Homo sapiens: one gene and its partners. The protein of the gene in region 4 purifies or fractionates together with the protein of the main gene of each other region. This does not show direct contact. Each region holds a gene or a part of one and is shown on either strand. Other genes may lie near its edges.

Region 1 (3,603 bases), on a different chromosome or scaffold from region 4:
ACTATTTGATAGTGTGCATTTTTCCGTTCATTTACTTTAAAAAAATTTTTTAACCCATGTAATATCAGTGGCACAATCATAAACTCCTGGGCTCAAATGATCCTCCTGCCTCATCCTCTTGAGTAGCTAGGACTACAGGTGCATGGCACCACACCTGGCTTATTTATTTATTTATGTATTTATTATTTTTATTTTTTGAGATGGAATCTCGCTCTGTTGCCCAGGCTGGAGTGCAGTGGCGCGATCTCAGCTCACGGCAAGCTCCGCCTCCCAGGTTCACACCATTCTCCTGCCTCAGCCTTCCGAGTAGCTGGGATTACAGGCACGGGCCACCACGTCTGGCTAATTTTTTGTATTTTTAATAGAGACAGGGTTTCACTGTGTTAGCCAGGATGGTCTCGATCTCCTGACCTCGTGATCCTCCTGCCTCGGCCTCCCAAAGTGCTGGGATTACAGGCGTGAGCCACTGCGCCTGGGGTTTTTTTTTTTTTTTTTTTTTTAATTTTTAGTAGAGATGGGGTCTTGCTATGTTTCCCAAGCTGGTCTCAAACGCCTGAGCGCAAGTGATCCTCCTGCCTGGGCCTCCCAAAATGTAGGTATTACAAGAGTGAGCTGCTGTACCTGGCCCCCATCCATTTACTTTCAACCAATTTGTGTCTGTCTCTGGGAGACTCTACTTCACTGGGTCTTGCCATTTTATCTGGATTGACAATCTCTGCCTTTTAATTGGTGTACTAGTCCATTATATCTAATTATTGATATCATTGGGTTTAAGTCTACATGTTTCCTTGTATTCCTTTGGTTTTTTTGTTGTTCTTTTGCTCCTTTCCTGCCTTATTTTGAAATAATTGGATTTTTTAAAGTATTGGCCTATTAGCCGGTAGCTTTTTATTTTTTATTTATTTTTATTTTTTTTTAAATAAGAGACAGGATCTCACTCTATCACCCAGGCTGGAGTGTGGTGGCTTTATCACAGGTCACTGCAACCTTGAACTCAGGGGTTCAAGGGATCCTTCCACTTCAGCCACCCCAGAATTTGGGACTACAGGTGTGCACTGCCACAGCCAGCTAATTTTTAATTTTTTTTTGTAGAGCTAGTCTCTGACTGTGTTGCCCAGGCTGGTCTCAAACTCCTGGCCTCAAGTGATCTACCCACCTCAGCCTCCCAAAGTTCTGGGATTACAGTCACCTTTTATGGCCAACAATTAACTCCTCATTGTTATTATTATTATTAGTGGTTTCTTTCAGCATATCTTTTATTTGTATTTGTGATTTGTTGTTATTTTTGCTTTAAACAGTCAGTTGTCTTTAAGGAAAGGTATGTTTTTAAAAAACTACTTCACTGAATATAATTCACGTACCATAAAATTCACACATTTAAAGTGTACGTTTCAATGGCTTTTAGTATATTCTCAGAGATGTACATATTACCCCACAAAGATACCTCTCACCACTTAGCCGTCACACTCCTCAACTCCCCCCTCCCATAGCACTAGGCAACCAGTTATCTACTTTCTGACTATGTAGATTTTCCTATTCTGGACCTTTCATATAAATGGAATCATACAGTATGTGGTTCTCTGGACTGGCTTCTTTTACATAGTGTAATATTTTCTAGGTTCATCCATGTTGTAGCATGTATGAGTACAACATTTCTTTTTATTGCTGAATATTATTCCATTGTATGGCTATACTACATTTTATCCATTCATCAGTTGAAGAACATTTGAGTCATTTCTACTTTTTGGCTGTTATGAATAATGCTGCTGTGAACATTCATGTACAAGTTTTCGTATGGACAAATGTTTTTGTTTCTCTCATGTATATATTTAGGAGTAGAATTATTGGATCATATGGTAACTCTTTGTTTAGTTTGTTTTCCAATGTGGCTGTACCATCTTATAGCAGTGAATGAGGGCTCTAGTCTCTCTATGTAGTTGCCAATGCTTGTTATAGTTGTCTTTTGATTATAGCCATTCTAGTGGGTATGAAGTGGTGAAATATAGTCTCTTATTTTCACCTATTTACTATCTTTGATATTGCCCTTCTTCCTTTGGATCTGATTTTATAGTCATATTGATTTCCATCTGCCTAAAGAACATTCTTTAGCATTTCTTTTTTTTTTTGAGACGGAGTCTTGCTCTGTCGCCCAGGCTGGAGTACAATGGCACAATCTCGGCTCACTGCAGCCTCCGCCTCCCAGGTTCAAGCGATTCTCCTGCCTCAGCCTCTTGAGTAACTGGGATTACAGGTGTGTGCCACCATGCCCGGCTAATTTTTGTATTTTCAGTAGAGATGGAGTTTCACCATGTTGGCCAGGCTGGCCTTGAACTCCTGACCTCAGGTGATTCGCCTGCCTCAGCCTCTCAAAGTGCTGAGATTACAGGCGTGAGCCACTGCGCCCAGCTCCTTAGCATTTCTTATAGTGTAGGTGTGTTGGTGAAGAATATACTCTGATTTTGTTTATAAGAAAGTGTTTTTATTTCACCCTAGTGTTTGAAGGATATTTTTGCTGAATATAGAATTATGGGTTGGCATTTCTTTGACCATACAAAAGATATCATTTCATTGTTCTCTAGTGTTTCTGTTGAGAAGTTAATTTTACTCATATCTCTTTCTCCCTGTTCTTTAGATTATATATTTTCTATTGATCTATCTTCAGGTTCACTGTTGCCTGTCTGCCATTTCTAATCTCATCCAATAGATTTTTCATTTCTTATTGTATTGTTTTGGTCGTAGAGTTTTCATTTTTATCTTTTTTATAGTTTTCATTTCTCTGATATTTCCCATCTATATACTCATCAAGAATATATTTTTCTTTAGTTCTTTGAATGCATTTTCCTTTAATTTTTTGAACATATTTTCCATTAATTCCTTTAAAATATTTATGATAGTCAATCTTAAGGTTTCTGTCTGTAAGAGTTAACTCCTTGGCTATCTCAGGGTTGGTTTCTTTTTTGTTTGTGTTTTTGAGAGAGCCTCACTCTGTTGCCCATGCTGGAGTGCAGTGGCATGATCTTGGCTCACTGCAACCTCCACCTCTTAGGTTCAAGTGATTCTCCTGCATCAGCCTCCCAAGTAGCTGGGATTACAGGTGCCTGCTACCATGCCTGGCTAATTTTTGTATTTTTAGTAGAGATGGGGTTTTGCCCTGTTGGCCAGGCTGGTCCCAAGCTCTTGACCTCAAGTGATCTGCGTGCCTCGGCCTCCCAAAGTGCGGGGATTACAGGTGTGAGCCATCACGCCCAGCCATCTCAGGGTTGGTTTCTATTGACTGCTTTTATTTGACTGTAGGTTACAGTTTTCTGCTTATTTATTTTTGCATGTTTACTACTTTTTAATTGTAGGTGGTATATTATAGAGATTCTGGATTTTGTATTTTTGTGAAAAGTGTTGATTTTAAAAATTCTTGCAGGTAGTTCAGTTACTGGCAGATAACTTTGAACTTGTGTAGGCTTGGTTTTACTCTTTGCTAGAATGATATGTGGAGAACCCATTGTTTCCTTACTTTAGTGTAACTCAACCTCACATTTTTAATCCCTTCAAAAACTTGTTGGGGCTTGATTTTAGTCTTTGTTAGGGTGCACCTAGAATATGCCTTAT
Region 2 (3,603 bases), on a different chromosome or scaffold from region 4:
TACTTACTGGCTTAAAGGCAAGACCTAACTGAATGTACCTGATCATTGATGTGTAGCTATGGCACCCACACTTCTTATTACTCGAGTTCATTTCTTTCCTGTCTCACTCTCAAGGCCAATATGGTTTACTTCCTGAAGTTCTGCCTAACCAAACTACTGAGATTTTATTTCCTTTGGAGGAGATTATGAGAGGATGTGTTTTTAATATCTAGTCCTTTCATTTTAGTGCAATCTTAAAGAAAAGGTACTGAGGATAAGCAGGAGAGAAGGCAGTCTCAGGCTTTAAACTCTAAACTGTTCTATAATCTCCCCCATTGCTTGTAAGGTGTACACATGTATACATTTTAAAACAATAGTTATACACATTACGATCTAGAGACAAGAAATCTTAAGTAATTATGTCCATTTTTGGGGGGCATGGGGAAGGACTTTAGAGAACTGTTGAGACCGTCAGATACGTGTTTTAACCTAAACCCAATCACCAAATTGTTCTTGAAGAGCAGCACTTTAATTTCAAAATCAAACACAAAATTTTACTGTCTGCTCAAGACCTGAAAAGGTAGGAAACATGACCAGTGGGAGATTTAAAGTAGAGATGGGGTTTCACCATGCTGGTCAGGCTGGTCTCAGGAGTTCGAGACCAGCCTGGCCAAACCTATCTCTACTAAAAATACAAAAATTAGCCAGGTGTGGTGGTGGGCACCTGTAATCCCAGCTACTCGGGAGGCTGAGACAGGAAAATTGCTCGAACCTGGGCGGTAGAGGTTGCAGTGAACCGACATCGCGCCACTGCACTCCAGCCTGGACAATAAAGTGAGATTGTGTCTCAAACAAACAAACAAAAAATTGATATAAAAAAGCCAGGTATAGTGGCTTATGCCTATAATCCCAGTTACTTCGGAGGCTAAGGGAGGAGGATTGCTTGAGCCAGGGAGTTAGAGAGGCTGAACTATGATTGTGCCACTGTACTCCAGCCTGGACAACAGAATGAGGTGCCATCTCTAATTCATGAATTAATTAAAAAGTGATTTAAAATATGTTTCTTTGTTATGGAATTTTAAAATTATAGAATTTAAAAAAATAACCTGAGACCTACAGATTAACATTTATCAATGAACTTGGGAAGATCAAGAGTGAAAATAACTGTGCTATGTGGGCTGATGAGAAATTTGATTATATAATGAGGACTGGCAAGGAAGTTCATGGATACTGGGTTCTGAAACCATATGGATATCACAAGCCAAAAATGACTGTGGAAAGAAGAATTTTATCTTTGAAGCAGCTTGTATTGACTCAGTTGATTTTAACAGACAGATCGTAGGTTACTCCTCTGTTTTAGATAAGAAATCTGAGGAAGAAGAGTAGATGCAGTGGTCTGTGTGCCAGAATCATCATGTGGCATTTGCTGGGTTTATCACAGAGATGCTTCCTTCTTCACCCCATTAGGGGAAGGTCACCTGTTTTGGAGATGGAGATAGTGATTGAGGAAGAGCGTAGGAGGCAGTCAGGAGAATTAACTGTCAGATCTGGCTCTGCTCACGGATTGCCAACTCCCCTTGGTAAATATTTAGAAAATGCCATAGTGTGTTTCCCTCTGTTGCTGCGTGTATTTCTTAATTCACAGCCAAGTGATCCACATTCTTCCATTTTCAGCCAGCCTCAGCTGAATATCAAACCATCAGGGGATCCCTAGCCTTTATAGCTCACGTAGTCTTAGAGGTGGTCATAGACAGAAAATGCTTCCTTAATGAATTGTCTGGCTAGCTTATCAAATTCCCAGACCACCTTTCATTTTTCTCTTTCCTTTTCCTGGTTGCAGGAAATATTACAAAGCCCTCTTCTTCCTACCTCAGCAAGCCCTTCTCAGGCTTTGCCATAATGTTTTATTTCCACATCATACCTGTGCAGACCTGGCTGAGGGTAGAATTACAAGGGCAATTAAAACTCAGCATATATCATGTGAGCAGTGGGGGCAAAAGTGGGCTTCCTTTCTTTCATTTGAATGTTATAAATTTAGCAAGTGAAAAGGCACAGGGCTGAAAAAAAAATAGGCTTTGCATTGAACCAGGCTCAGATCATCCAGGATATTTATGAAGAGACTAACGGCACCTTGATAGCTAAAGAACAATAATTGCTTCGAATTATAGTCAATTTAGGAGTTTCCACCATTGTGAAAAGGAGAAGAAACTTGAATAATTCCGAAAATGAATACTTTGAAAATATTTTCCATTTGTACCAGACTTAAATATGGGCGTGTCTCACTTGAGAATGTATAGCAATTCAAATAAAACAAAGCATACTTTAAAGGCATAAATTATGTGGACCAGAAAGAAGTCTGTAACCTTATTCTGTCCCTCTTTTGAGTCCCAGCCTGTTTCTAGAAGAACCCTAGGAGTGGTCAATTAGCTTCATCTTCCAGTATATTTCCAGAAGGGTGGAAAAGCAAGAAAAGGCCTTTCATAATACTGACTTCGAGTCATAAGTCATAGAGAGTTAGAGGTAGAAAGGCCCGAGAGAGAATTGAGGTGTATTCAAAAAGAGCAGACATTGGGTGTCTACCACGTGTCTTACACTGTTATGTGCTGAAGACACACAAAGAGATCAGATGGAGAATCACTGATCTGGTGCGAAAATGGCCTTGCAAACAAGCAGTGATTCAACAGGATGCCTGAGAGAGAGGGTGTACAGGAGGAAACATCTCATTCAGGTTGGGGAATGAGAAGACCTTTGAAAGTGCCTAGGATTTCTATAATGGAAGAAGGGAGGATGAGGGGGCCTGCGAGTGGGGCTTTAGGAAATTGCCCAGCACAGACAATAAAGCATGATTAGGTTAGGGGATGAAGTGTAGTTCCACATGGCAGAAGTGTGACCAGAAAGGTGGTTGGGGTTCAGCCTGTGAAGAAGTTTGAGCCACTGGAAGTTTTTAAGTCATAAAGGGGTGTGATGAAATCTTTGTTGACAAAGCTCACCAGTGGCAGTGAAGAGAAAGTGAATTAGATCCCAGCCAGTACAAGATGATGATCACAGATAACTATAGTCCACTCAATTTTCAGCATGCCTTTGTCTACACATCATCTTATTTTATCTTATGATGAGCATGTGAAGGGAAGATCTGATTATTCCTGGTTTCCAGTTACAAAACAGGATTAGAAATGTACATTTATATACTCAATGTCCCTCTAGTAGTTTATTCCAAAACCTGACTTTGACCCAGTTGCCTAGTTCTGAGGCTGGGGCTGTTTCCAGGTCTTCTCAGTGGAGTAATTGAATATTCTGGGCCTTCTGGTTGAGACCGCGGTTGCTTTTTTTCTTCAGCAGAATATTCCACATAAGTTCATTGGTTCTGGAGAGAAGACACTTGTTAATGGTATTACCCTTTACCATAGCCACAGAACCTCAAGAATGGCCCTCCAGAGTATGCACAGATGCTGTTCCAAAGCATGAATTAATGGATTCTCAGTAGCATGCCATAGATAAATGAAGGGTTCATCTGCCCGTTAATTGATGTTTTGGGTTTTTCATTCCTTTACCCCAAATTTACTGGGCATTATTGTGCTTATGCTTCATTTTGGACTTCAGCAGCCTCTTTTTGTCCAGTGATCT
Region 3 (3,603 bases), on a different chromosome or scaffold from region 4:
AGACTGGATGGCTTAAGCCACAGAAATTTATTTTCTCAAATCTGGAAGCCAGAAGTCTGAAATGAGGGTGTTAGCAGATTTACTTTCTCCTGAGATCTCTTTTTTGTCTTGCAGATGGCTGCCTTCTCTGTGTCTTCCCTCTGTGTGTGTGTCCTCATCTCCTCCTCTTACAAGAACGCCAGTCATGTTGGATTAGGGCCCACCCTAATGACTTCATCTTACGTTAATTACCTCTTTAACTTCATTATCCTGTCTCCAGGTGCAGTCACATTTGAGGTTTTGGGGTTAGGGCTTCAACATATTAATTTTGTGTGTTTTGTGCGGGCACAGTTCAGCCTATAACAACATCCTTATTCTTCAGTTCATCTGCTCTACCTTTACCTCCTCCAGTGACTTTCCTAAGACTGTTTGATTTCCATGTATCAATTCACTTGTCTTTACCTCAGATTATTCTGTCTACTCATTACAGTAATCCAGAGAAGAATTTTTCTTCTTTTATCTTTCAAACATGAACAGATTTTCTTTTTATTTATTTATTTATTTATTTATTGATCATTCTTGGGTGTTTCTCGCAGAGGGGGATTTGGCAGGGTCACAGGACAATAGTGGAGGGAAGGTCAGCAGATAAACAAGTGAACAAAGGTCTCTGGTTTTCCTAGGCAGAGGACCCTGCGGCCTTCCGCAGTGTTTGTGTCCCTGGGTACTTGAGATTAGGGAGTGGTGATGACTCTGAACGAGCATGCTGCCTTCAAGCGTCTGTTTAACAAAGCACATCTTGCACCGCCCTTAATCCATTTAACCCTGAGTGGACACAGCACATGTTTCAGAGAGCACAGGGTTGGGGGTAAGGTCACAGATCAACAGGATCCCAAGGCAGAAGAATTTTTCTTAGTACAGAACAAAATTAAAAGTCTCCCATGTCTACCTCTTTCTACACAGACACGGCAACCATCCGATTTCTCAATCTTTTCCCCACCTTTCCCCCCTTTCTATTCCACAAAACCACCATTGTCATCATGGCCCATTCTCAATGAGCTGTTGGGTACACCTCCCAGACGGGGTGGTGGCCGGGCAGAGGGGCTCCTCACTTCCCAGTAGGGGCGGCCGGGCAGAGGCGCCCCTCACCTCCTGGATGGGGCGGCTGGCCGGGCGGGGGGCTGACCCCCCCAACCTCCCTCCCAGACGGGGCGGCTGGCCGGGCCGAGGAGCTCCTCACTTCCCAGTAGGGGCGGCCGGGCAGAGGCGCCCCTCACCTCCTGGACGGGGCGGCTGGCCGGGCGGGGGGCTGACCCCCCCACCTCCCTCCCGGAGGGGGTGGCTGGCCGGGCGGTGGGGCTGACCCCCCCACCTCCCTCCTGGACGGGGCGGCTGGCTGGGCGGGGGGCTGACCCCCCTACCTCCCTCCCGGACGGGGCGGCTGGCTGGGCAGAGGGGCTCCTCACTTCCCAGTAGGGGCGGCCGGGCAGAGGCGCCCCTCACCTCCCGGATGGGGCGGCTGGCCGGGCGGGGGGCTGACCCCCCCCACCTCCCTCCCGGACGGGGCGGCTGGCCAGGCGGGGGGCTGACCCCCCCCACCTCCCTCCCGGACGGGGCGGCTGGCCGGGCAGAGGGGCTCCTCACTTCCCAGTAGGGGCGGCCGGGCAGAGGCGCCCCTCACCTCCCAGATGGGGCGCTGGCCGGGCGGGGGGCTGACCCCCCAACCTCCCGGACGGGGCGGCTGGCTGGGCAGGGGGCTGACCCCCCCACCTCCCTCCCGGACGGGGCGGCTGGCCAGGCAGAGGGGCTCCTCACTTCCCAGTAGGGGCGGCCGGGCAGAGGCGCCCCTCGCCTCCCGGACGGGGCGGCTGGCCGGGCGGGGGGCTGATCCCCCCACCTCCCTCCCGGACGGGGCGGCTGGCCAGGCGGGGGGCTGACCCCCCCATCTCCCTCCTGGACGGGGTGGCTGCCCGGCAGAGATGCTCCTCACTTCCCAGACGGGGTGGCTGCCGGGCGGAGGGGCTCCTCACTTCTCAGACGGGGCGGCTGCTGGGCGGAGGGGCTCCTCACTTCTCAGACAGGGCGGTTGCCAGGCAGAGGGTCTCCTCACTTCTCAGATGGTGCGGCCGGGCAGAGACGCTCCTCACATCCCGGACGGGGCGACAGGGCAGAGGCGCTCCCCACATCTCAGATGATGGGCGGCCGGGCAGAGACGCTCCTCACTTCCTAGATGGGATGGCGGCCGGGAAGAGGCGCTCCTCACTTCCTAGATGGGATGGCGGCTGGGCAGAGACGCTCCTCACTTTCCAGACTGGGCAGCCAGGCAGAGGGGCTCCTCACATCCCAGACGATGGGCGGCCAGGCAGAGACGCTCCTCACTTCCCAGACGGGGTGGGGCCGGGCAGAGGCTGCAATCTCGGCACTTTGGGAGGCCAAGGCAGGCTGCTGGGAGGTGGATGTTGTAGCAAGTCGAGATCACGCCACTGCACTCCAGCCTGGGCACCATTGAGCAATGAGTGAAGGAGACTCCGTCTGCAATCCCGGCACCTCGGGAGGCCGAGGCTGGCAGATCACTCGCGGTTAGGAGCTGGAGACCAGCCCGGCCAACACAGCGAAACCCCGTCTCCACCCAAAAAATACGAAAACCAGTCAGGCGTGGCGGCGCGCGCCTGCAATCGCAGGCACTCGGCAGGCTGAGGCAGGAGAATCAGGCAGGGAGGTTGCAGTGAGCCGAGATGGCAGCAGTACAGTCCAGCTTCGGCTCGGCATCAGAGGGAGACCGTGGAAAGAGGGGAGAGGGGAGAGGGAGAGCCAGATTTTCTTTTTTATAAGGATTTTTGATTTAGATAAGGATGTGGTACCACTTGCAGAACTAGGGAAAGGAATTAATGTTGGGGAAAAAAGTTACCCCAGCCAGGTGCGATGGTGCACGCCTGTAATCCCAGCACTTTAGGAGGCCAAGGTGGGCAGATCACTTGAGCCTAGGAGTTCAAGACCAGCTTGGGCAACATGCCCAATGTGGTGAAACCCCGTCTCTACAAAAAATACAAAAATTAGCTGGGTATGGTGGCGTGTGCTTGTAGTCCTAGCTACTCGGGTGGCTGAGGTGGGAGGATCACCTGAGCCTGGGAGGTAGAGTTGCCGTGAGCTGTGATGGCACAACTGCACTCTAGCCTGGGTGACAGAGCCTCAAAAAAAAAAAAAAAGTTATGCCATCTTTTTCCATTTTTGGCCTCCGTATACAGTTGTTTATCCCAGTCTGGTTACTCTTGCCTTTGATATCTGTCACAGATTTCTTGCCTCTTCTCTGTTCTTACTGCCGCCCCTGAATGTGGGACCTCTTTTACCTCATTGATCTACCTGCCCACATTCCTCCTCTGCTGCTCTGCTTTCTTCCTTATGTATTCCACTTAGAATCTGTATTAGTCCATTCTCATGCTGCTGTAAAGAACTGCCCCAGACTGAGTAATTCATAAAGAAAAGAGGTTTAATTTACTCACAGGTCCACAGAGATGGGGAGGCCTCTGGAAACTTAGAATTATGGTGGAAGGGGTAGCAGGCACATTCTTCTCCACATAGTGGCAGGAAGGAGGAGAATGAGAGCCAAGCAAAGGGGAAGCCCCTTAC
Region 4 (4,317 bases):
CCTTTACTGTTACAGTAAAACTACAGAAAGCAAGAGATAAAGAAACATAAGCGGTCTTGAAAACAGAAGAGTAACGGAAAACAACTATTCATACAAAACTTTTAGCAAAGTTAAAACAACGTTAAATTTCTAATTAATAAAAACACTACAGTGAGTAGAGGATTTTTGCCTTTAAAGACGTGTACAAAGTTTATAGAGAACCAGAAAATAAGTCCTTCTAAGACAAGACAGGTAACCACATAGAGCCAAGAGGATGAATAATGACATCATGTACAGTCCTGCCTTCCTCCATAGTCTGCTGGGTTCAGCTGTGTTGGTGAATTCAGTGGTTCTTGTCCGATGGTGCGAAACTCAAGTGCTGGGGGAAATTATGTATGACCCATAATAATGTCAAAATTCTGCTGATATCATTCCTCTATTTAACAATCGTGTATAAACTAATTCTCATCAAAGAAATATGTATCATAGAACATACTGTACACGTGGAGAGAATTAAAATACACAGTAGCATACGTTGGGAGAATTAGTGGGAAAGGGTTTTTAAAATCCTTTACTGTTCAAAAGGAGGGTAAAAATATCAACTACAATTGAATATTTAGAAAGTAAAGAAATGCTGTAATCGCAAGGGTATTGCGATTGTTAGGTTGGGCTAATTTCTGTAATAAACAACCCCCAAAATCTCAGTGGTTATGGAATAAATGTTTCCTTCTGGCTTCGGTCACCAACTAATGCAGATGGGTGGGGCTCTATTCGGCGCAGCTACTCAGTGGTCCAGGTTCCTCCCACGTTTTGGGTCTGTCTCCCCGGGAGCCTCGGGTCCTCCCTGGGATCCCGTATCTGGCTACCGATAAGAAGAGGGAGACAGCAGGTGTGGAGGAGACTTTTTAGGAGCCATGCCTAGAAGTGGTGGATGTCTTTTATGTCCAAATTCCAATGAGCAGAACTGAGCAAATAAAAGGGAATTGGACGAATTCAGTTTTGGCTCCACCAAATAGCCTAACTGGTGACAGAAGGGGCCGGGGGAAGAAGGTGGGGGAAGAAGAATGATGAACGAATACTCCCAATCAATCAAAAAGAGGCAAGAAAATAGAAGAAATGCAAGGGTTTCCAATCCATACTACACCCCTGTCACTCTTGGGACCGCAACTTGCCCTCCCAGAGCCTCGGTTTTGTAAACAAAAAACATAAAATACTTCCTAGGGATGGTAAACTGATTCAACCAGATAACGCAGGGAAAATGCTTCGCACGCCGCCTGACACGAACTTACTGTGCCTGGCTGCTGCTGTTATTTATCACTAACACTTGCCACACCAGCTCAAACGCGCGTATTTGCGGACCAGGCGCTGAGGGTCACGTGAGCAGCTTGGGGCCGGGAGGATCCCCTAGCGCCACCCCGGCCCCGCCCGGCGCGTAGCGACGCCCACGCGCCCGGGCCGGAAGAGAGGTTGCTTAGCAGCGTGTGTTTCTCCCTTGCCTCTGCGGCGGCGGAGGCCTGGCGATGCCCAAGAACGCAGTGGTCATCCTGCGCTATGGGCCCTACAGCGCGGCAGGCCTACCGGTGGAGCACCACACCTTCCGCCTGCAGGGCCTGCAAGGTGGGCCTCCTCGCCGCGTGCGCCCCTGAGGGCCCCAGCCTCTGAGCATCCGTGCAGGTGGTGCCCTGTGCCTAGGCCTTCCTCAGACCCCCACGAAGCGCCACCTCTCCAGGAAGTCTTCCCCAGGATGATGTTGCAACCTATGGCTTCCAGGGCTGGGCTAAAAGAGTGGGAAGGCTCTTCTATCCAAGAGTGAGCTGTGGGCCCACCCAGTGCCCAGCAAATTACAGAAATTACCTCCATAGAAAAAATTACATAACCCTGCTTTAAGAATTGGGAAACTGAGGATCAAGAATATTAAGTGACTTTCACAACTCAAATGGCTGGGAAGTAGCGTTGCTGGTATTCCATCTCTTAATCGTTCATGCAGCAGACTTTTATTAAGCACGCAGTGTGTGTTGGACACCCTTCCAGGGACTGAGGACACACTGTTAAACAGTGATGAATGTCCTTGAAGTAATCTCCTTGTTAACTGCTAAATGACAGCTGTGCCTAAGCTCTGACTGAGGCTAGGTGGTGCCATGGGAGCTAACCACAGTGGGACCTGTGACTAGCCATAATGGGAGGGGAGAGGGAGAGGTCTGGAAAGGCTCATTTAAGTGGAGCCTTAAATGAGCCCACATTTAAGTAGACCTTTAAAGAATGAGTAGAAACTAACCAGGTAAAGAGAGGAATGCCTTCCAGGCAGAGGGACTAATAATATAGGCAATGGCTGGAGGCATTCAATAAATGATGTATTAATATTTGTTAAACTGATGGGGGATGAGGCTGGAGAGGTAATCAGGCCAGATCCTGCAGTGCCGCAGATAAGTTTTAGGCAGGGGATGAAGCTGTTGCTGCTCTGAGGAGAACAGATTAGAGGGGGCAAGAGTGGAAACAAGGAAGACAAGTCTGTTGGGGTGGTCCAGGGCTGAGATGAGAGTAGCTTGGACCATAAAGGAGACCATGGATCAAAGTGAAAGCAATGGTACTTCCTGAGAGGATGGAGGTGGGAGGTAAGGGTAAAAAGAATGTTATCCGGATCTAATCAGTGTCTGACTTGAAACAGTGCTGATGGATGGATGTACTGTCCACTAAAATCAAAGACACCAAAGATGGACCAAAATTTGGAGGAATATGTGGAATCGTTCCAAAGGAACAGTCTATTTTGGTCATACAGATAGTCCCCAACTTAGACTTCTTGACTTTAGCATGGGTTTATTGGGAGGTAACCCTATCCTAAGTTGAGGCACATCTGAACCTACAATGGTTCCACTTAACGATTTTTCCACTTTATGATGGGCTTATCCAGGTATTAAGCCCACTTTCCACTTACAGTGGGCTCATTGGGACCTAGCCCCATCATAAGTCAAGGAGCATCTGAATTAAGCTTCATGTGCTTTCGGCTACCTAGACAGAGGTGCTGAATCAGCTCTGTTGTTCTGGAGTTCAGAGAAAAAGTCTGAAATGGAGATAGAAAGATGTGAGTCATTGACTTGGAGAGAACATATAGAATGAGATGAGAGCCCAGGAATGACCATTGATGAACTCCCATCCTATGACCCAAACTAAGAGTCTTCCAGGCAAAATACCCTGAAGCCTAAGGACACAAAAATTAGTTTTAGCTGAGCAATCAGGGAAAGCCTCCTGGAAGAGATGGCATTTGAGTTTGAGTTTGAAGGATGGGTAGGATTTCAATCAGCAGAGGAAGTTACTTTCTGTGAGAGAACAGTTGATAGAGAAATTTCTGTTGCAAATACCTCCATGTTTGTATTTGTCTATTGGGATTGCCAAAACAAAATACCATAGACTATGGGACTTAAACAATAGAAATATATTTTTTCAGTCTAAAGGCTAAAAGTCCCTGATCAAGGTCTGGCAAGGTCAGCTTCTGGTGAGGGCTCTGGGCGCTCTTCCTGGCTTGCTGACAGCCACCTTCTCTTTTGTCCTCACCTGGTGGGATTATATGGGGAGAGCGGGGAGCAAGCTCACTGGTGTCTCTTCTTATAAGAAGAAAGACACTAATCCTATCAGATTGGGTCCTCATCCTTATAACCTCATTTAACCTTAATTACCTCTTTAAGCACCTGTAGTCACATTGGGAGTTAGGGCTTCCATATATGAAGTTGGGGGAAGGGGGGCAACAATTCAATTCCTAGCAGTGTTGCATGGTGATGTTTAAAATGTTTTGTAGTTTTGGCTAAGAAGACAGCCTAAATAAGTGACTTTTCTCTTCCTCCCCCTCTGATGAGCCACACCTACCCACCCTCACCTCATAATCTACCTTTAGTTTATGTTCACTGTCTCTAAAAATAACGTGGGTAAAACATATATTTAAAATGTTGCCATTTTAACCATGTTAAGCATACAATTCAGTGACATTAATTATCTTTACAATGTTGTGGAACCATCACTATTCTCTCTTTTTAAAATTTTTCAACACCCCAGACAGAAACTGTATTCCTTAAGCAACAACACCCTATCCCTCTGTGTCCAGAATTTATTCCTTCTGGTGGGTTCATGGTCTCGCTGACTTCAAGAATGAAGCCAGGGACCTCGCGGTGAGTGTTACAGCTCTTAAAGGTGGTGCATCCAGAGTTGTTTGTTCCTCCTGGTGGGCTCGTGGTCTCGCTGACTTCAGGAATGAAGTTGCAGACCCTTGCAGTGAGTGTTACAGCTCTTAAAGGTGGTGCAGACCCAAAGTGAGCAGCAGCAAGATTTATTATGAAGAGTGAAAGAACA

What was found. The genes of interacting proteins can lie anywhere in the genome.
Region 1: the proteins of C10orf53 (region 4) and MNAT1 purify together in Homo sapiens (affinity purification with mass spectrometry; one large-scale study listed by BioGRID and IntAct). This does not show direct contact.
Region 2: the proteins of C10orf53 (region 4) and SPTB purify together in Homo sapiens (affinity purification with mass spectrometry; one large-scale study listed by BioGRID and IntAct). This does not show direct contact.
Region 3: the proteins of C10orf53 (region 4) and SPECC1L purify together in Homo sapiens (affinity purification with mass spectrometry; one large-scale study listed by BioGRID and IntAct). This does not show direct contact.

What each region holds. Positions count from the first base shown.
Region 1 is NC_000014.9:60,741,181-60,744,783, forward strand, and holds part of MNAT1 (CDK-activating kinase assembly factor MAT1), read left to right. Parts: intron 1-3,603.
Region 2 is NC_000014.9:64,873,385-64,876,987, reverse strand, and holds part of SPTB (spectrin beta chain, erythrocytic), read left to right. Parts: intron 1-3,603.
Region 3 is NC_000022.11:24,315,751-24,319,353, forward strand, and holds part of SPECC1L (cytospin-A), read left to right. Parts: intron 1-3,603. UniProt on the Homo sapiens protein: Involved in cytokinesis and spindle organization. May play a role in actin cytoskeleton organization and microtubule stabilization and hence required for proper cell adhesion and migration.
Region 4 is NC_000010.11:49,678,199-49,682,515, forward strand, and holds the start of C10orf53 (UPF0728 protein C10orf53), read left to right. Parts: upstream 1-1,452; 5' UTR 1,453-1,499; coding exon 1,500-1,596; intron 1,597-4,317.